2 separate regions of the Homo sapiens genome follow, and region 2 is linked to region 1. Evidence: fine-mapped expression QTL. Tissue or cell type: whole blood. Region 1 holds a variant in brackets; the other region holds the start of a gene. All regions are shown on one strand. Distances are from middle to middle.

The links. PIP is the estimated chance that this variant, and not a neighbour inherited with it, causes the effect.
Region 2: CIMAP1A starts here. The variant in region 1 is fine-mapped to the expression of CIMAP1A in whole blood (INTERVAL, PIP above 0.99).

What each region holds. Positions count from the first base shown.
Region 1 is chr11:214,951-226,193 of GRCh38, forward strand. SIRT3 (sirtuin 3) reads right to left here. Exons shown (of 7, transcript NM_012239.6): 5 at 9,128-9,289; 6 at 3,882-4,091; 7 at 80-1,768. The coding sequence ends at 1,748. It overlaps RIC8A (RIC8 guanine nucleotide exchange factor A), which reads left to right. Exons shown (of 10, transcript NM_001286134.2): 10 at 1-163. Among named protein-coding and RNA genes, the nearest start is that of MIR6743, 11 kb to the left of the region's middle. The variant G/T (reference allele first, on the strand shown) is at 6,372.
Region 2 is chr11:190,389-201,393 of GRCh38, forward strand. It overlaps CIMAP1A (ciliary microtubule associated protein 1A), which reads left to right and starts at 6,373. Exons shown (of 7, transcript NM_053280.5): 1 at 6,373-6,658; 2 at 6,909-7,025; 3 at 7,173-7,373; 4 at 7,811-7,912; 5 at 8,076-8,197; 6 at 8,981-9,121; 7 at 9,556-9,870. The coding sequence starts at 6,917. The coding sequence ends at 9,645. SCGB1C1 (secretoglobin family 1C member 1) reads left to right here and starts at 2,690. Exons shown (of 3, transcript NM_145651.3): 1 at 2,690-2,766; 2 at 3,324-3,523; 3 at 4,030-4,187. The coding sequence starts at 2,712. The coding sequence ends at 4,062.

The sequences.
Region 1 (11,243 bases):
AGTTCTCGCTGGTTTTGGCAATTAAACCTCCTTCCTACTGGTTTAGACTACACTTACAACAAGGAAAATGCCCCTCGTGTGACCATAGATTGAGATTTATACCACATACCACACATAGCCACAGAAACATCATCTTGAAATAAAGAAGAGTTTTGGACAAAAATGTATGTGTAAATTATCAAATAAAGGGGCCAGGCACAGTGGCTCATGCCTGTAATCCCAGCACTTTGGGAGGCCGAGGTGGGTGGATCACTTGAAGCCAGGAGTTCGAGACCAGCCTGGCCAACATAGCAAAACCTTGTCTCTATTACAAATATGCCCATGTGCTAGGTGTGGTGGGACACACCTGTAATCCCAGCTACCCAGGAGAATCGCTTAAACCCGGGAGGCGGAAGTTGCAGTGAGCTGAGATCATAACACCGCACTCCACCCTGAGTGACAGGGCAAGACTCAAAAAATAAAAAAGGAACATTAACTAGGGTTAGAAACTAACTTCATTCTTTTTAGAATTCAACAGTTTTCCTAGGTCACCAATTCCACCTTTTGTTCTTATTAAGGCGCAAAGTCACAGGACCCCCTTCCTGGGAGTCACTGTCATTAAATCTATTGCCGTCAGCTCAGCCCAGGGTAGGCAAGGTTCAAGAATGGGAAGTGCTTTTGTCTGGGGAAACACGCAGGTAATGTGATGCTAGGAAGGAGGATGTGCAGGTGGGTGAGAGCCCAGGAGGGAGCAGCTGGTGCCTGACAGGGTGAGCCATCAGGGCTGGGCCTGGGTACAGCCCCAGGAGAAGGAGCCTGTGCAGAAGTAGCAGTTCAGTGGATTCCACCTCCTATGTCACAATCCAGCAGGTGGCCAGGACTCAGCCTGGGTTTTAAGTGAGTAATGCCTTCCCTGTCTCAGAGATTAGCTCTAACAGTGTCACTAGAGGAAGCCCTGGCGAGGGTGGGGGGGCGTAGTGTGGGGACAAGGAGGCCAGATAGAAAGTGCTGGAATGTTCTGGAACAGATCTGTTTCTGGAGGAGAGGCTGAGTATGGAGAGTCAACAGAATGTGACCACCTTCAGAGGGAGGAGCTGGGCCGTCTCCAATAAATCCAGGGACAAATGCCTTCAGTCCTCAGACTGTTCCAATAGAGGGGACGCCACGTATCCCAGGGTTCCCTTTCCAACTCATGTCAACACCTGCAGTCCCTTTGAGGAGACTAAATGTATTTCATGCTGGAAAGAACAGATTTTCTCTCATTAAAAATAGCCCCACTAAAGGAGACCAACATGCTAGAAGTGCGGCACCAGGGCCTCAAGACTACACTTCGGAACATGAAGAGGGCTGGGGACCGCTCGGCCCAAGTCTGGATCTTGTAACCAACAGATGCCGAGCTTGCCGTTCAACTAGGCACAGAAAGCAGACTCGGTCTGGGATTCCAGTTGGTCTGATTCAGTTCAAGAGGGTCACAGTCAGAAGAAAGCTTTTTCCATTAGGAGCTTCAGCAGAGTGAAGAGTTCAACACAGCAAACAGGCAGGCAGCTCCTTTGTATATGTGACGGGGTGGCCCTGACTGTAAACACAGCCCTACCAGTCACTGCAGCTCATGGCCTGAGAAGACATTCCAGTGGCAGCCTCGGGTGTCCACTCAGTTCACATATTCTGGTTTCACCTGCCCAAGCTGTCTTCAGGCATGAGGTCTTGTCAGAATTGGGATGTGGATGTCTCCTATGTTACCATTTATTGTGTGGGGGCAGCCATCATCCTATTTGTCTGGTCCATCAAGCTGGAATACAGAAGACAGAGGGTATCAGCTATCTGTTTACACACCCAGGCAGGCCAGCAGATCTCTGTTCAAACAGCTCTAGCTGCAGACATGCAAAATATTTCACAAAACAAGCTGCTTTCTGCAAATACTGCTGCTGCTGTGCTGGGCTAAGAGGATCCCAGCAGGCCTGGGCAGAACAGGGTGGCTAAATGGAGAGCCTCATTCTATGGGTCTTAAAGTACCCAAATCAATATGTACTGATGCTCATGTGCTTAAAAGCATTCACTATTTGGAAAAGTAACCCCTTGGATAGTAATGCTGTAAAAAACAGAAAATGAAATCATAACCCATTTTACATACATTTCTCTGAAACTAGATTATACAGTTCAAATCCTATTAAGCCACTTCCAAAACTCCACAGGAGCTACCAGAGTTACAATCTGCTTTTCTATGAAAACAGGAAGTTGGGCCGGGCCTGCTGGCTCATGCCTATAATCCCAGCACTTTGGGAGGCTGAGGCAGGTGGATCACCCGAGGTCAGGAGTTTGAGACCAGCCTGACTAACATGATGAAATCCCATCTCTAATAAAAGTACAGAAATTAGCCAGGCATGGTGGCACATGCCTGTAATCCCAGCTGCTCAGGAGGCTGAGGCAGGAGAATCACTTGAACCCAGGAGGCAGGGCTGCAGTGAGCCAAAATCGTGCCATTGCACTCCAGCTTGGGCAACAAGAGTGAAACTCCATTACAAAAAAAAGAAAATATGAAGTTGGAGCAGGAAAAGGATCCCTCAAAAAAGCCTGCTGGGCTGATCTAAGATCTCCGCTGCCTTGTGAGCTGGCCAGGAGGCACTCGCCTCTCAGCGTTTAAGCCTCATTGTTAGCTGGGTTCCCTGCCTCCATAATGAAGTGACCATGATTGGTAAAAAATCAGCCTGCAACCAGAGGTTGGAGGTCTTGGACTGGTGGAGGTGAGGAGAGTGCTGACCCCATGGCCCTGAGCCATGAGGCAGCCACAGCTGTGGACAAGGAAAAAGGATCAGGATTTCCTAAGACATCTGCCTTGGAAGGCAAGAGGAGCATCAACTGTGATATATTGTAGTTGATATGGTTTGGCTGTGTCCCCACCCAAATCTCACCTTGAATTGTAATCATCCCCATGTGTCAAGGGTGGGGCCAAGTGGAAGTAACTGAATCATGGGGGCGGGTCTTTCCCACACTCTTCTTCTGATAGTGAATAAGTCTCACAAGATCTGATAGTTTTATAAAGGGCAGTTCCCCCGCACACGTCCTCTTGCCTGCCACCTTGTAAGACAGTACTTTGCTCCTGCTTTGCCTTCCACTATGATTGTGAGGCCCCCACAGCCATATGGAACTGTGAGTCCATTAAACCTCTTTCCTTTATAAATTACCCAGTCTCAGGTATGCCTTTATGAGCAGCCAGAGAACAGACTAATACACTGGTGAAATCCCCTTTGGACAGTGTTACACCTGCCTGTAATCATGACACTGGACTTTAAATGCTTAATGCTACCACCTCCCATTGAAAACCCTTAATATCAAGGCTACACATGCTACATGATTCTTATGGGAAACTGCATTTTCTGTAACTTCACTTGTTTATAGGCGGTTTGAAATCTCTTAGAAAGCATCAAGGCTCTTTGGCTTTCCTCAGCGGATTATAATTGATCAATGGCTCTCATACCAATTACTTCCGAAAAGCATCACTCATGTAGCCTTCATCCCACATAGATGCAGAGAACTTTAGCTTCTCAAAGTTCTTTAACCCGTATCATCTTAGAATCACATACCAGGCCTTAGAGGGACACTGTTGGCTGCTTTATTTTAGGGAGTGAAGGTAACGCCTATAGTCTGTTAAGAATACAGACTCATCAGCCCTGAGTGTCTGGACCGTGTCCCTGCTTGGCCTGTTAGCATCTGTTTCCTCATCTCTAAATGGAGGTATTGAAAGTAACACCCAGTCAGGTCCAGGTAGTGCCTGGTGCAGGATTCACAGCATCATCAGCTATTACTGTTACTGTGTTAACCAACGGGGCTCCATATCAGGTGGACCATACCCTAGAGCAGTGAGAAGGGCAGCCCCTTGGATGGTCCTCCTCAGCAGTCTGTACCTTCCCAGTTTCCCGCTGCACAAGGTCCCGCATCTCTTCTGTCCAGCCCAGAAGCTCCACTAGGCTTTCCACGCCGTGAACCACGTCCCCCAGCTGGGCCACGTCCCTGCTGCGAGGATGCCAAGCCAAGGGCCCCACCAAGTCCCGGTTGATGAGCAGTCGGGGAACTGAGCTCCGCACGGCCTCGGTCAAGCTGGCAAAAGGCTCCACCTGAAAAATGGGCCAAACGTGAGGGGCACAGTGTCCACTTTACAAGCTCCTCAGGATGTTTCATGCCACAGCCACCGAGGCCTTGGAGGAGCAGCAGATTGGCAGTCAGAGCCTGCGATATAGGGAAAACCCACCACCAATCTCATTTCTTCAGCTGAGCTCCTGCCGCTTGGCCTCCGTGACGGTTTTCTCCCCTCCGCCTCTCTCTCTCTCTCCCACTTCTTGCTGTTTCCACACATCCTTGCTTTTCCCCACCTCCGTTCCAAGGCTCATCAGGGATCCAACCTTCCTGCCTCCTCTTTGTGAGCACGTTCTGTTCTCCCTGTCCTCCCCACCTCGCTGTCTCCCAGCATGACGCAGAGGGACAACAGCACAGACTCGTCCATCTCCTCTGGCTAGCCCTGCTTGCTCTGACAGCCACCACCAGCATCGGGCACCCAGACGAGCTGGTGCCCCCGAGCAGGAGTTACTGTTACGTCTCTCCATGGTCTTCCCCACCCAGCCTCTAGAGAGGCCTAGCTCGGTGCCATCAGGCTTCTTCATACAGCTCTCAAAGCTTCTTTTAAGAGGAACAAGGTAAAAAAATGGATACATTAATAAATGGCATTAAAACTGGCTCATTATCTGGGAGGAAAATACTCCATTCCTACCTCCCACTGAAAAAAATTCAAATGGATTAAAGGTTTCAATGTAAACAAAACAGTTCTTGAAGAAAACTAAGGATTTACAAGTAAGGATAGGGAAGAACGTTCTAGGCGTAAAAACTGAAGTCAGATAAGGCAAAGGAAAATGACAGATCTGACTATGTAAATACTATTATCTCGGTATCTACATAAAACTACTATGTAGAAAATTTAAAATTTTTAAAAACCTCTCATCATCATAAACTGCAAAAATATTTACAACATATGACAATAGTTTATATTGCTAATTGATAAACTCATTTATAAACATATAATTTATGAACTAATTTATAATGCTAATTTATAATGAAATTTATATTAACAGCTGGGCATGGTGGTTCACACCTATAATCCCAGCACTTTGGGAGGCCGAGGCGGGCAGATCAGCTGAGGTCAGGAGTTCAAGACCAGCCTGGCCAACATAGTGAAACCACGTCTCTACTAAAAATACAAAACTTAGCTGGGCGTGGTGGCACGCACCTATAATCCGAGCTACTCGGGAGGTTGAGGCAGGAGAATGGCTTGAGCCTGGGAGGTGGAGGTTGCAGTGAGCCGAGATCGCGCCACTGAACCTCCAGCCTGGGAGACAGAGCAAGACTCTGTCTCAAAAAAAAAAAAAAAAAAAAGAAAGAAGTTTATATTAACATTAAAATGTAATTATATTATTTAATTTATACTAAAATTAAAACTAATTTATATTGCTAATTTATAATGACCCAATGAAAAATGGTCAAGAGGTACAAATATACAATCCAAAGAGAAGAAACACAACTGGCAATAAACATGAAAAGATGAACTTCATTCTTTACTACAGAAAGGCAAAATCCGCACCCCCCTCCACACACACACATGCATTTTTTAACCAATTTGATTTGTGTGATTTTGGTTTTGGTGAGGATGTGATAAAATGGCTACATAAAAACACAGTTTGTGGCAGTGTAATTGTTACATCTTTCTGGAAGGCAAGTTCTCAATATTTATCAGCATTTACCCTTCAGGAGTTCTTGCATGGGTAGATAAGGATGATACACAGGGATATTCACCACAGCATTTACCCTTCAGGAGTACTTGCATGGGTAGATAAGGATGACACACAGGGATATTCACCGGAAGGCAAGTTCTCAGTATTTATCAGCATTTACCCTTCCAGAGTACTTGCATGGGTAGATAAGGATGATACACAGGGATATTCACTACAGCATTTACCCTTCAGGAGTACTTGCATGGGTAGATAAGGATGACACACAGGGATATTCACCGGAAGGCAAGTTCTCAGTATTTATCAGCATTTACCCTTCCAGAGTACTTGCATGGGTAGATAAGGATGATACACAGGGATATTCACTACAGCATTTACCCTTCAGGAGTACTTGCATGAGTAGATAAGGATGATACACAGGGATATTCACTACAGCACGGGATCTCATTCTGTTACCCAGGCTGGAATGCAGTGGCATGATCATAGTTCACTATAACCTCAAATTCCTGGGCTCAAGCAATCCTCCTTCCTCAGCCTCTCAAATAGCTGCAACTACACAGACCATGCCTGGCTATCTTTTTATTTTTTGTAGAGACGAGGTCTGACTATACTGCCCAG[G/T]CTGGTCTCAAATGCCTAGCTTCAGGCAATCTTCCTGCCTTGGCCTCCCAGAGTGCTGGGATAACAGGTGTGAGCCACGGTGCCTGGCCCAGCATTACTTTTAATGTAAAAATTATATACTATTTATTATCATTGTCCATCAGTAAGAAATTGCTTACATAAATTTTGTATTAAATCCACAAAATCTATGTTAAAGCTCTTGTGGCTGAATATGTTTCAGAATTTTTGAGATTTTAGAAAAGATCATATGGTTTACATCCCACGTTATGTCACACCTAAAGGGGATCTGGAGTGGTACTCCACAGTCAAACACATTAACATTTCGTCCACAAAGCACATGAGATAGAGTCTGTGCGTGACACCAGCTCATTCAGTTCATGATGGCACCAGCCTTACAGACATGGGTTTCTCAGTTGGGACCTCATATCCGTGTAAGGGAAACTGTTGGCATTAACAACGCAGCACATCTCCATGGACTCACATTGTTACGTGAAAACAGCAGGCTGCAGAATAGAATGTACAGTGCTGTCCAACTTTTAGTTTAAAATTACCATCTGTACGTATGCATTTGTACAAAAAAAAGAAAGCTGAGAGGACACAGAATAAAATGCTAACAGTTGGTGGGATTAAAAAGTTGATCCTTTGCTTTATATCTTTATATAATGTACGAATCTTTTCAAAGACACACATGATACACTTATAATCAGGAAAAAGGCCATTTTCATTTCACTTCAACAATAAAGATGGCTGGTGGCCCAAGTGTCCACACCTGGTGGCCAGCACGGTCAGCTGGTCTCAGCCCACACTGTGCTGACCACCATGGCCCCTCTGACTGCTCCTCCTGTGTCTGTCCCTCCATCCTAGGCCTAGCATGGCATTCTCATGTCTGTCCACACCCTGGGCTCTCCTGTCTGCTCACTCCAGCACCCCAGCTCCTGCCTCTGGGCCTTCCTGGACTCCAGACTCATGTCCACCTGCTCAACACCTCCAGTCCGCAGCACATCCTCAAATCCGTGGAAACAAGGCTGAGTTCCTGAGCTCCCCCAAACCCACCTACCAGGCTTCTCCATCTCAGGAAGCGGCGGCTCCGTCTTTCCAGCTGCTCCAGCCACAGCCCTGGGGTCCTTGGGAATCCACGGCCTCCCATGCACTGTGCCAGCGTACCCACTCTGCGTTCACACACACCCAGACTCCAGCACCCCTCAGCCTCTGCTGGCTTTACCTGGCCCCCAGCCAGTGCCAGCCGGTGATTACCTACAAGGGCCCTGCTGGGTCTGCTGCTCCCAGTCTTGCCCCCATGGTGGGCTCACAGCCCAGCACCCAACGGAGTCCTCTCAACTTCAGACTCTGGCCTGGAACCCAAGCTGAACCCATTCACCTTCTGAGGTGGCGCCAGCCTCCCATGAGATGACACTTGTGCCCCACCTTCTTCTCTGCTCCAGCCCCGTGGCCATCAATGCTGACTTCGCCCCACCCTCCTTGCTGCTTGTCACCTGTGCAGTGTCCCCTGCCAGACCCTCCTCACCTCGGTAAACTCTTAGATCCAACTCCACCTGCCTGACTTGACACTGCAGCTGGTTCCCAACCCTTCTAGCCTTTCTATCCTACTTGTTATCTTTCTCATAACATCAATCATCTCCTAACAAACTATATAACTTCTTACACTGACATCTGACCGTGTATGTCCAAAGCACTGGAGCAGGGCCCAGCACACAATGAATGCCTGAACAAACACATGCTCTGGGCCCCTGTGGCTGCCCTGGGCCCCTCTGAGCACAGGTCTTTCTGGCCCTTCTGTCCTCGGTGCCTACATCCAGTCACGCACACACTGACTTCATGGTCTCATTTCTTGCTCTCATCACAGCTTTTAGGAATTTCCTGAGCTGCAGACGCAGACGCAGAACAGCTGCTTGAACACATCCAGGGCATGTTTCCCGACACCTCAGACACACACAGAACCGAGCTGGGCATCCTCCCTCCCAAATCACGCCTCACCAGCAAGTGCCCTGACCTTACAGACCAAGCCAGACGCCTCCTTCTCACGTCCCCAAAACATCACAGACTGCGAGTCCAGTCCCCCTCCTCGCCATCCCTCAGGCGACCACAGCTCCACCTTCTCCAGGACCAGCCTCCTGGCACTGCTTGCTCCACTCTCCACTCCCCAAAGGCCTCCCTGACCCCAAGGGTGCAGCTACGTCCCCGGGCCAGTCCCTGTGGATTTATCACTCCTCCCACTGCAGCATCAGTATTCCTGATCTGACCTGGGAGGCCCTGCCCCTCCACCTCGCCCCCACACCCCCATCCTTCTCCCTTCTCCTCACACGTGGTGCCCCACCCACACCTATACCACCTCCAAAGCCCAGCAGCTTCCCACCTTCCTGTCTCCTGCACAGGCTGCTGCTCCCTCAGCCTGGAACCCCAGCTGAATCCATTCACCTTCCCAAAGTGGCACCAGCCCTGGAAGGGCCCATGAGATGACTCCTGTACCCCTCCCTTCCCCTGCCCTCCAGCCTCCTCCCTGCACAGGCCTGCCGACAGCCCATGAGATGACTCCTGTACCCCTCCCTTCCCCTGCCCTCCAGCCTCCTCCCTGCACAGGCCTGCCGACAGCCCATGAGGTGACTCCTGTACCCCTCCCTTCCCCTGCCCTCCAGACTCCTCCCTGCACAGGCCTGCCGACAGCCCATGAGATGACTCCTGTACCCCTCCCTTCCCCTGCCCTCCAGCCTCCTCCCTGCACAGGCCTGCTGACAAACCTCCAGGGAGGTCCCAAGGATGAGCAGCAGATCTGCCATGGGGAAATCAACCACATGCAGCAAGAACCTCTGGGGCAGCGGCTCCCCAAAGAACACAATGTCGGGCTTCACAACGCCGGTGCAGACCGGGCAGCGGGGAACCCTGTCTGCCATCACGTCAGCCTGGAAAACAGAGAAAACAGGCCTGAGGAAGATGCCTGCAACACCCTGTAAAAGGAAAAGGCAACAAGTTCTTATTAAAGTCTCAAACATTCTCCCCCAAAAAAGGTGAGAGAGGGATCATGAACCCCCATGTACCCAGCTTCAGGAATTACCAGTTTTCATAGCTAATTGTTTCACAGCCCTCCGGAATCTGGGAGGAGGTATTGGAGCCTTTAAAAGCAAATCTTGGACATCATATGTTTCACCCATAATTACTTCGGCAGGCATCTAGCGTATCTAACACCATGCTCTATCCCTGGGATGGCAGCCAGAGACATCCAGGCGCTAAGGAAACACCTGGTAGACCACACCAGTCCTCAAACAGTAGTCTGCAGGCATTTGGCCTACACCGAACACTATTCAGTCAGAAAGGTGAAACTGTCTCTGGTTTGAGCTTCGGTGATCATGCCATTGCCTCAGCCCTGGGAGGCATTCAGGTCAGCTTCACTCACTGGCTGGCATTATTAGGAGTAACAACATCTGCCAAACACTGCTTCCTTACTGGCCAAGGTGAAGTGGACACAACTTCCCTTTGCGTCAAGATTAATATAAATAAATGCCTTGGAGCAGATGGAAAAGGGAGAGAGTTACAGAGGAAGACACCTGACTTTCTAAGGTAAACCTTTACAGCTAACGGGGCTTGTTTTAAGCAGGCTCAGCCCAGCAAAAAGCAACAGATACAAAAGACAAAAGAAAGAGACCCACGAAAGATTTCAGATATTCTTGGATACACAGTAAAACTGTATTATATTTAAATTAAAAAGAAAAAACTGTTATCTTGGAGGCATGGGGTATAGCAAAAAAAAAAATTAAGGAAGCAAAAAAAAAAGATGAACTTGAAATATCTATCAAAGGCCAGGCGCAGTGGCTCAGCTCTGTAATCCCAGGACTTCGGGAGGCCGAGGTGGGCAGATCACGAGGTCAGGAGATCGAGACTGTCTTGGCCAACATGGTGAAACCCTGTCTCTACTAAAACACAAAAAATTAGCCAGGCGTGGTGATGCGTGCCTGTAATCCCAGCTACTTGGGAGGCTGAGGCAGGGGAATCACTTGAACCTGGGAGGCGGAGGTTGCTGTGAGCTGAGATTGCACCACTGCACTCCAGCCTGGGCAACAAAGCGAGACTCTGTCTCAAAAAACAAAACAAAACAAAACAAAACAAAAAACTATCTATTAAAGATATAAAATTATTAAAAAATTATGTAATAATGTAGCAGACTTGAAAAATAACCAAATAGAACTTCTAGAAATAAAAAGTACAGGAACCAAAATTAAAACTCAATGTCTGTTTTGAGTTGCTGTTTGGGAAAAAAGAAAGAAAGAAACACTCAATGGAAGGACCTTATAACAGAATACAATATTAGTAAACTGGAAAAAAGACCAGAAGAAATTACCCAGAATGCAGCACAAGAAGCAGCAATTACAGGACAGAAGAGTGATCAGGAACAGCAGGAGAGAGAAGGTCTAATGTATGTTCAATCAGAGGTCCCTAAAGAGAGGGGCCAGATAGTGGGCTAGGGGCAACTCATATCCGAAGAGATAACGGCAGAGTATGATCCAGCAACCATGAAAGACGCCAACCCGCAGATTCAGGATCTCAAGCAAGTGAGGGCTACTGAGCCAGCCTGAGGGTGCCCACAGGAAAAACATGAGTCACGGCACATCTGTGCTTGTTTCTGTCCCAAGAGGTTCTCAGGAGGTTTAGTAATTACATGTGGTCCTTCAAAGAGGGAGGGTGGCTGTGAGGTGAGTGGTTACGTACTTGTGAGACTTCAGTAAGTGCCCAGTAAATGTACATTTTACCTAAGATAGAAGGAAACAGAGGAAGAGAACTAAGCAGACCTCTCAGGGAAGGGTGAAGGAACCATTAATCTCATCTTGTCTTTAATCTGTATCTGGGAAGATAAACCAGTAA
Region 2 (11,005 bases), 25 kb before region 1:
GATGTCCCAGTTCTTGTTTAACTTGGAAGAAACATTTTCACCAAGAGGCAATACAAAGATGGCAGATAACTTCATTGAAAAGAAACACAGTGTAAAGAGTTTATTGTAGAAAAATAGGGAGGAGTGGGCTGAGCGTGCATTAAAACAGCCTAAGAGTCCTGTGCAGGGAATTTTATTTTGGATTTCTTCACATTCCTGCCTCTGTCTCAAGTCTCCACCTGTTTTCTTTGTCTGGTTTTCCTGCTACTGCCTTAGCTCCCCAACTTGCCCCACTTAGGCTTGTGGGACCTCCTCACTGTTGGTTGAGGTACATGTGTGGTGATCAATACGAATCCACTCTGGCACCAGCCTCCTTCCCGCCATCCCAGGCACACTGACAGCGATCACGTTTGTACCTACTGCGCCTGCCTCTTTTGAATGTCCTTCTCTGCCCTAATCTGTACTTATGGTGCCAGGTTTCTCTTAAGAATGTCCCCTTTGGCCTTATCAGCATGTAGCTAGCAATATTCTGACATTTTTATTGCAGAGTGAATGATTGGGGCATCTTCAGAGGAGTTCTAGGGTGTTTCTTTCTGCATAGGTACCTCTTTTCCCTCCTACCCACAATTGACAAGTGCCCATCCACTCCAGCACTAGAGATGCTACTAATATGTGAATTTTTGGTGGTCCCTCCAGGTGAGCCTTCCCAGACTTTCCCTTTTCCAGGAGGCCCCCTCCTGTTCATGTCTAGCTACCTATCTACTCTAACAAAGCCCACTATCCTGTGTCTTTCCCAAAAATAGTGAGGGAACGATTAATTGGAAACCATAAGAAATGATATGGATATAGACGAAAACTTTACAACTTACACAAATAATCACTCAAAATCATCCTTACACTAAAAATGCAAAACTATACAATTTCTAGAAGAAACAATAGAAGAAAAGCTATCTGCCTTTGGGTTTGGTAATGAATTTTAACAAATGACACAAAAGGTAGATATACACAAAAGAAGTGACAGTGTGGATTTCTTAATATTTAAAGTTTATACTCTGGAAGAGACCTTGTTAAGAGAACAAAAAGACAAGCCACATATTGAAGAAAATATTTGCAAAATACACATCTGAGAAAGAATTTGTCTTCAAAATATATAAAAAATTATTAAAACTAAACAATAAGTTAAACAGCCCAACTAAAAATGCACACACATCTGAACAGACACCTCACCAAAGAAGATCTACAGATGGCAAGTAAACACATTGAAACCACAATGTGGTTACAATTGAAAACCACAATGAGATAGCACAGCTGGTCTATATCTGTTAGAATTGCTAAACTCTTTTAAAAATGACAAATTGCTGAAGGAAAAACAAGAACTCTTTTCATTGCCAGTGGAACACAGCGTATAAGACCAAAATACGCCACCCCAAAACCTAACCCTAACCCTAACCCCTAACCCCTAACCCTAACCCTAACCCTAACCCTAACCCCTAACCCCTAACCCTAACCCTAACCCTAACCCCTACCCCTAACCCCTAACCCTTACCGGTGACCCTACTGTATCCCTGACTCCTAACCAACGTTGATCCCTAACCCTAAACCCCTTACTGTAACTATAATCTTCATCCCACCCTATCCCTAGCCTTAGTGCCATCCCCCAGGCTTTTTCCAGGATGGGATTTTATGTGATTGTTTCGAATAGGTGGAAATCTCTGCTCATTTAGGAGTCGTTCAATGTAACAAGGATCTTGGTCTTCACAGAGACCCTAAACGCGTGTGGCCCAGGGCCATGTGGATGCCATCAGCCACTAGGTGGCAGCAGGGGCCCTTTGGATTTGAACAATGCAGCTCAGTCAGAGGGCTGGACTGGGACACCCCTACTCATGGTCTCTCTTGGCATGGTTTTGTTTGGTGACTCCAGGTGTCCCAACCTCCTGTGTCCATTGTAATATGTCCTGGGACCATCTCCCCCAGGGCCTTCAACCTGGGGGGTTGAACCCCAGGATAGCAACCCCAAGCCCTCCTTGCTATCCTGGCTACTGATGGAAGATGTACCTCAAGCCTGTCCCATTCCTCACTTCCTGCTGAGACCTGGCCCCAACATGGCCAGCTCTATGTTCCTCAGACCCTCTCAGGCCACCTTCTCTCTTCTAGGCACTGTCACTGGGCTTCTCCCCACCCCATAGATCCACAGCCCCCAGGTAGTCCTACAGCTGTGTCCACTCGTGCAGCCTGCACCCCCTTCCCCTACTCGGCCACCCCATCTGAGTAGTAAGGGGCCCCTGCCTGATTGGAGACCCCCAGATGCAGACCCAGATCACACAGCACACTGATAAGAGGAGGGATTCGCACCTTAAAAGAAAGGCGTGGGACCAACCCCAGATCCCACCACTCTCGGCCTCAAGGGCAGGCATGACTAGAGGCCCTTGGTGGCCAGGACCCACTGCCTTCTTCACCGATCAGTTGGCATGGCCTCTCACCAGTGTTCCCTCCTAACACACCTGTTCTCTCTCTCACACACCCTAAAGCCGCTTGCCAACCACCTGTCACACAGCCACTCCATGCCTGTTGCTGCTTGGCACCCACTGGGGGCCAGGGATGTGAACAAACCTCATCTAAGCTGGCTGCCGGGTCCTAATGGGCAGGTCCGGTCCGCCCTCTAGGAGAGGTGCTGTCCGGTGAGGCATAAAATCCCGGGATTCTGGCTGGAGGCAGCTCCTGAGACTGCTGGCATGAAGGGGAGCCGTGCCCTCCTGCTGGTGGCCCTCACCCTGTTCTGCATCTGCCGTGAGTCTGTGCCACTGGGGTTTCCAGAACATTCAGGGGTGGGGGGGAGTGGGGGGTACCTGAGAAGGTAAAATCCTGGCATCGGGCCTCTGCAGTGAACACTCCACCTGCTTCTGTCACAGAAGTGGGCAAGGACCCTGCAGAACCCGCGCCCACCCTACTCCACCCCAACCAAGGACAAAGCCCAGCTGACCCAACACCAGCCCAGTGTCTCCTACCCCAGCCCAGTCCAGCCTGACCTGACCCTTCAAGCCTCTGGTCATAATAGCCTCTCATCAGGGGAAATTTCCCCCACACCAGGAGCTTAACTTTCCTTCCCTGGTGATCCCAGGGAATGCTGAGTGGAAATTGGAGCAGCTAAGATTAAGGGGGATGTGGAGGGGTCTTCGGGCAAGGTGGAGTTGGAGGTGTTGTGGAGGAAGCCCTGGGGAGGAGAGGTGGGCATTGAAGGGGAAGGTCTGGAGACCATGGAGGTTGGAGCCCTGGGGCAGGTCCAGGGCTGTGGTTGCACCAGAGTCACCCTGTCCTGTCCTGGCATCATCTCGCTCGTGATGCAGGGATGGCCACAGGGGAGGACAACGATGAGTTTTTCATGGACTTCCTGCAAACACTACTGGTGGGGACCCCAGAGGAGCTCTATGAGGGGACCTTGGGCAAGTACAATGTCAACGAAGATGCCAAGGCAGCAATGACTGAACTCAAGTCCTGTATAGATGGCCTGCAGCCAATGCACAAGGCGGAGCTGGTCAAGCTGCTGGTATGAGGGCGGCGGGCACCCCATTTTCTAAAGATCTGCAGCCTTACCAAGACCACCCAACACAGCACCCACACAGCCTACCCCACCCACAGACATCCACCACCCACAGACATTGCACCCGCATCAGCCAGCTCAGGTGGACACCCCAGACCTCCTGTCCACCGAGCAGCCCCCAGACTCCATAGACCTCCTCCCCAGTCTGTGGGATACTCCTCCATGCACACATGTGAACATACACAGAGATCCAAACACAGGTGCAGACATGAAATGTACACTGCGTGCACACATGTATAAACACGTTCACACCCACATGCTCACACTGGGATATGCACACACATACATGTGTGCACACCATCACATGTGCACACACACCTCCCAGCTGCTGGGAGGAGATAGGCAGCAATATGCCAGACCCCCCCCCACTGAGGGCCTTGCTTGCCTGATGGAGCTGTGGCTCTCCACTTATTGAGCACAGCCCTCTTAGTCCACATGTGTCTGCCTTCCAGGTGCAAGTGCTGGGCAGTCAGGACGGTGCCTAAGTGGACCTCAGACATGGCTCAGCCATAGGACCTGCCACACAAGCAGCCGTGGACACAACGCCCACTACCACCTCCCACATGGAAATGTATCCTCAAACCGTTTAATCAATAAAGCCTCTTCCGCAGCTCAGGCTCCTGTCTCTGCCCCCACAGAGGGGCACACAAATGGGGACATCAGGAACACACTCGGGGCCACAGCCACACACACAGACCCACATACAGAGGATCCCACTCAAGGAGCACACGTGCGAAAGTCCCCACAGAGGGACACACAAATGGGGACATCAGGAACACAGGGCCACAGCCACACACACAGACCCACATACAGAGGATCCTACTCAAGGAGCACACGTGCGAAAGTCCCCCACAGAGGGACACACAAATGGGGACATCAGGAACACAGGGCCACAGCCACACACACAGACCCACATACAGAGGATCCCACTCAAGGAACACACGTGTGAAAGTCCCCACAGAGGTACACACAAATGGGGACATCAGGAACACAGGGCCACAGCCACACACACAGACCCACATACAGAGGATCCCACTCAAGGAACACACGTGTGAAAGTCCCCACAGAGGTACACACAGGGTCCACACAGGAGCAGGCACACCACAGGCAAGACCCAAAATGGAAATCCAGGCAGACGCCACGTAGGCAGGTGGACAGAGCACAGAGCCAGACAACACTGCGTGGTCGTCCGGAGGGGGCGTCTGGAGGGGGCGTCCGGAGGGAGACGGGCGGCAGAGGCAGCGGTATGAGGTGGGAGCCCCAGAAAGAGGAAGTGTCCAGGACTGGGTGGACACAGACCCCATGTCGCCCATGGGCTAGGTCAGGGCGGGGGTGCTCAGCATCTGAAAGCTGGTGTCGAGCCCCAAGAGGACCCCTGACAAGGCCAAGAAAAAGGTACACCCATGTCCAAGGGGGTTGGGAGCCGCAGGTGAGCAGCCTCTGAGGTCAGCCAGGGCAGCCCCAGCGCCCACACTGACTCACACCCACCACAACCAGCACAGACCCTGATCCTGACCCTGGATCCCAGACTCTCCCACAGCCAGAACCTTCCAGCATTTCAGCTGCCCAATCTATGGTCTCTTCTGGGGGCACAGCTGAGTGGAACCGCCCCATCCTTGGCCACCCTGGGTGCTGAGCCCTGACACTTCACTGCCCCGGCCCTCCTCTCCACACCTCTGTCCTGTCTGAGCCTGGCAAGGGGGCCATGCGGTGCTGTCGGCTCTGTGCTCTGTCCCACCTGCCTACATGGTATCTGCCTGGATTTCCATTTGGCTGAGGGAGCCCTAGGGAGGGGGCCCTGGAGGACTTGGTTACAGGGGACCTGGTGAGGGGACCCAGTGAGGGGGACTTCATGGGTGGGTGCCTGGTTGAGGGGACCTGGTGAAAGAAACATGGTGAGGGGGCCTGGTGAGGGGTGGTCTGGTGAGGGAACTTAGGGAAACCTGGTGAGGAGGACCTGGTGAGGGGACATGGGGGGGACCTTGGTGAGGGGACCTGGTGAGGGGACATAGGGGGACCTTGGTGAGCGGACCTGGTGAGGGGACATGGGGGGGACCTTGGTGAGGGGACCTGGTGAGGAGGACATGGGGGGGACCTTGGTGAGGGGACCTGGTGAGGGGACATGGGGGGGACCTTGGTGAGGGGACCTGGTGAGGGGACCTGGTGAGGGGACATAGGGGGGGACCTTGGTGAGGGGACCTGGTGAGGGGACATGGGGGGGACCTTGGTGAGGAGGACCTGGTGAGGGGACATGGGGGGGACCTTGGTGAGGGGACCTGGTGAGGGGACATGAGGGGGACCTTGGTGAGGGGACCTGGTGAGGAGGACATGGGGGGGACCTTGGTGAGGGGACCTGGTGAGGGGACATGGGGGGGACCTTGGTGAGGAGGACCTGGTGAGGGGACATGGGGGGGACCTTGGTGAGGGGACCTGGTGAGGGGACATGGGGGGGACCTTGGTGAGGGGACCTGGTGAGGGGACATGGGGGGGACCTTGGTGAGGGGACCTGGTGAGGGGACATGGGGGGGACCTTGGTGAGGGGACCTGGTGAGGGGACCTGGTGAGGAGGACATGGGTGGGGAGCCTTGGTGAGGGGACCTGGTGAGGAGGACCTGGTGAGGGGAACATGGTGAGGGGAACATGGTCAGGGGGACTTATAGGGGTGTCCTGTTGGGGGGACCTGGTGGTGAGATCTGGTGAGGGGATCAAAGGCAGAAGCCATTGTCTTGGTCACATAGACAGAATCTAGAACCTGTCATCCCACAGAGCCACATTCTAGAGTTTAGAGTGGGGGACCTCTCCCCAATTCTGTAAGCCCATGAGGAGAGAGGAAGGCCTTTCTCTCCATGCTCCTTTTGCGGGAACTCCCTGGCACCAAGGCCAGGGGGGAAAGGACAGTCTCTGATGAGGATGGGTCTCTAGGCTGCTCTGAGTGCTGTCCCTGCACTGAAGAAGTTATAGTTCCCTCCCAGGCGGCCCCCTCCCTGCCCCTCAGCTCAGCCTCAATCAAGAAGTTCCCCATCTTTGACCACTCCAAGTAGGAGAAACCGGCCCAGGGCTCCCTTAGAGCCGAGAACAGTGGTGAGTTAAGGGCCAGCATGGACAGCAACTCTGGGTTACAGTTAAGCTGGTGAGGAGCTCACAGACCCATGCAGAAAGCTCCTACTGTCCCTGACTCCTGGCTCCCAGCTGGAGATCCCCACTGATGCTGCAGCAGGTTCCGCAGGTCTTACCCTTCAGTGTCAGCAAGAGCAGGGTCGGGGACATCAGGGGCCGGCATGGGACAGGGCCGGGCCTCCCAGCACCTGGTAACCCTCTCACTTACGGACAGAGCTGGCCATGACGGAGGAGGTATGGATGGGTACCTGGAGGCCCCATCGCCCCCGGGGACCCATCATGGCCCTCTACAGCAGCCCTGGACCCAAGTACCTGATTCCACCAACAACAGGTAAGAGCCTGAGAGACTGTGGGAGAGGGTCAGGAGCCAGGCGGGCAGGTGGGGGTCCCGGGAAGGGCCTGGGGCTCAATCCCTGACTCCCAGCGGGGAGAAGGGCAGGTCAGGCTCCGGGCTGCTCAGGGCCCATTGCGTCCACAGGCTTCATGAAGCACACGCCCACCAAGCTGCGTGCACCGGCCTACAGCTTCCGTGGGGCCCCCATGCTCCTGGCAGAGAACTGCTCCCCAGGGCCCCGTTACAATGTAAACCCCAAGATACTGAGGACTGGCAAGGACCTTGGCCCTGCCTACTCCATCCTGGGGCGCTACCAAACCAAGACCATGCTGACTCCTGGTCCAGGTTAGTGACCCTGTCTCAGGCTCCTGCCCTGCGCAGCCTCAGGCCTGCCCCTCCCTGCTGGGTGCCCCTAACCTCATGTCAGCAAGGGTGTGGGAGAGCTCAGCCATCCTGGCCCCTCCCGTCCCATCTTTCTCTCTTGAGGGGTCACCATCGTGCCTGGGCAGAGAAGACTCTGGCCCAAGAGTCCAGCTCCGACCTGGACCTTTCTCTGCCAGGCCGACGTCAGACCCCACTCTCCCTGCTCAAAAATAGCCTTTGTCTCACCAGCCCTGAAGTCAGCATTTCCATCCTGGACACCCCCTGACCCGACTTGGTCACCACCTGTGTTGGAGCCCAGAGGCCCCACGCCTAGAATGTTGGGGAGTCCTCCTTGAGCCCCCAAACTGGGCTGCATACCCACCTGCTTGTCCCAGCAGCCCCCTTGGCTCCTTGTCCAGGTGACTACTTTCCAGAGAAATCCACCAAGTACGTGTTCGACTCAGCACCCAGCCACTCCATCTCTGCCCGGACAAAGGCATTCCGAGTGGACAGCACCCCAGGTCCGCAGCAGCCCCAACCATCCTCAGCCAAATGGACCTGGGGATCCTGGGTGGGGTGTGTGACATGGGGCAGCCCGACGGCTGATCTCCAGAGTTGGGGGAGAGCCCCAGGGAAGGAGCAGTGGGCCCTGTTCCGGCCTGAGGCTCCACGTCCACCCTGCAGGCCCCGCTGCGTACATGCTGCCCATGGTAATGGGGCCCAATACCGTCGGCAAGGCCTCCCAGCCCTCCTTTTCCATCAAGGGCCGCAGCAAGCTGGGCGGCTTCAGCGACGACCTACACAAGGCAAGGGCCACCCCAACTGAGAACAGAGAATCACCCCCAACCATCTGAACCCTCCCCCGGAACCCAGGACCCACCAGTTCGGCCCTGCCTTGCCAATGCCCCTCAGCCCCCTCAGCCCTTCACCCTCTGGGCACCTGCCACGTGCTGGGGTTACACTGCAGTGGTGAGGAGGGGCAGGCAACAGGCCAGAAGGGAGACGCCCTGGCCCCAGCATGGACCGTGCTGAGGACAAGAGATGGGGTTTAGGAAGCACTGTCTGGAGAGAGAGAGGCAATCTTAGATAGGGTAGCATGGAAAGAAGAGGAGGAGGAAAAAATAAACCATGAGCTATTTGGGGGAGGAGGGTCCTGGTTTCAGAAACAGCCAGTGCAAAGCCCCTGGGTGGCACATGCCTGAGAGCTTGAGGGGCCTGAGATGGGGAAGCAGCATCATGGCACCCAACAGCCCTCGTCCATGTTGATTTTGCCAGCCCCAGGCCCTCAGGTCCAACAGGGCAGCAACAGCCTCTCTCACACACGCTCAGCGATGTTCCCAGGACTGGCACACACTGGGGATGCCATTGCCAGCGTGAGGCTGAAATGGAGGAAGTGACCCCCACATGAGGTACCCCACAAGCAGTGGGGTGTGATCTCCACAGTGTGACAGAAGACAGAAGGGGACCTTGATGCACGGGCACCAACTTGTAGCTGACCCTGTTGACTCAGAGCCTGAGTTTGCTCCCTGTCCTCTAGGGCCACACGCCCTGGGTAGGCCGAGTTGGTCTGAGCCTCCTTTACCTCTCAGACCCCAGGTCCCGCAGCCTACCGCCAAACTGATGTGCGGGTGACCAAGTTCAAGGCTCCGCAGTACACCATGGCTGCCCGTGTGGAGCCCCCAGGGGACAAGACCCTCAAGCCAGGACCAGGCGCCCACAGCCCTGAGAAGGTCCAGGAAGAGCACAGCTCAGAGGGGTCAGGGTGGGGCAGGGTCCTGGCCCAGAGGGATGTGTAGGAAAGAGCAGGGAGGGGGGCTGGGACACAGACGAGGGGAAACAGGGTCAGGCTATGGAAGGACACAGCCAAGAAGGGGTGGAGGGGTGGGGTGGGGATGGGAGGCACCTGCACCCTGAGGACCCTGTACATTTCCAGCACTAGGCCCACAGGTAACCCTTCAGGGACATGGAAGCAGAGACCCTGCCCTTTTCCCTAGACACTGTGACAGCTACTACTGCTGAGTGCTCTGTGTTCAAACCTGGGAGCATAGCTTCTGGCCACCTTGGCCCCAGGTTCAGGAAGGACAGCAGCCCAGCCCCAGCCAGGGCAGAGACCTGCAGGTGGGGGCAGGGGTGCTGGTTCCTATCATAGCCCCTCCTCTCCCAGGTGACCCTGACCAAGCCCTGCGCCCCAGTTGTCACCTTCGGCATCAAACACTCTGATTACATGACTCCCCTGCTGGTTGATGTGGAATAACGCCAGCCCTGCTGTGCCCCATCACACCCGGCATCTACACAAGATCCGCCGGGCCACAGAGCTCGAGGCTGTCTTCACCAGCTGGGCTGGGCCAGCCTGGCCCTGCAGGGCAGAGCACGCTTGTTTGGGCAATTGTAATCAGTTACTTTTTTTCTATGCTATTTTACCATTTTTTAATCTTGTTTTCTGCTGTGCCCAAATTATTAATAAATCAGATTGCATTAATAAGGGTTTGTCTTGGTGGAAGGATCAAGCATTTCCAGAAAGGAGCCCCCGTAGGCTGTCAGCACTTGCCCACAAGGGGTCCCATCCTGCCTTCTAGGGCCCAGGGTCAGCTTGGTGAGATGGGAGGGCCCAGGGTCTGTGTGGGGAGAGATGGTAGGGCCTGAGTACCTCAGACACCCTGCTCCACACTGTCCCTCCTGATGCTTTCTGCCTTGAACCCAAAGATGGCCACACCTGTGCTCATCACCTCTGAGCAATGCTGGGTCCCTTCCCTTGAATCTGGACTATAGCCTGTGGGTGTCCTGAGTAATGAGGTATGGCAGAAGTGATGCCACCAGGCTCCTGAGGCCACGCACACAACATACCAAGGAAACAGCTTCCGCCTGGACACCAGAGCCCACCCCACCCCCACCCTTCTGCCACGTGTCCATGTTTGCTCCAGCACCAGCCATCATGTTGTGAGGAAGCTCAACCATGGCGAGACTGAATGCACCATCCCAGGCAGTCGGCCCGGCCACAGGCAGTCGTCAGCCCGGCCACAGGCAGTCAGCCCGGCCAGGCCCTCCACTCACCAGCACTGACCTCTGGACCTGTGAGTGAGCCTTCAAGTGAAGGCAGCCCCAGGACCACATCTCCCAGTGAGGCCTCGACACTGTAGAGCAAAGACAGCCAACCCTGAAGCGTGCCCCGTCTCAAATTCAATGAGACATGATAAATCATTGCTATTTTAGGTGAAGTTTTAGGGTGACCTGTTACACATCAATGGGTCATACAGGGAGTACAAGGAAGACATGGACAGGGAAGGTGGGGTATCCGCTGGGCCTGAAGAGGAGGATTTCCAGAGGCTGCCCAAGAGTCCAAGGCCAGGCCTCAAGAAGTGGAGTCTGGATTTCAACTCAGGCTTTCAGGGAGGTCACTTTAGGACGGGTGACCTCAACAGACACACTGGTAGGACCATCACCTGCACCTGTATAAAGCACAGTACAACTGCTGACCTTCACTTCGCTGTGATCGTGCCAGGCTGTGTATTCGAAGCACTTCATGTTTACTCTCTTTTTTTTCTTTTTTTTTCTGAGACAGAGTCTCGCTCTGTCGCCCAGGCTGGAGTGCAATGGCACAATCTCAGCTCGCTGCA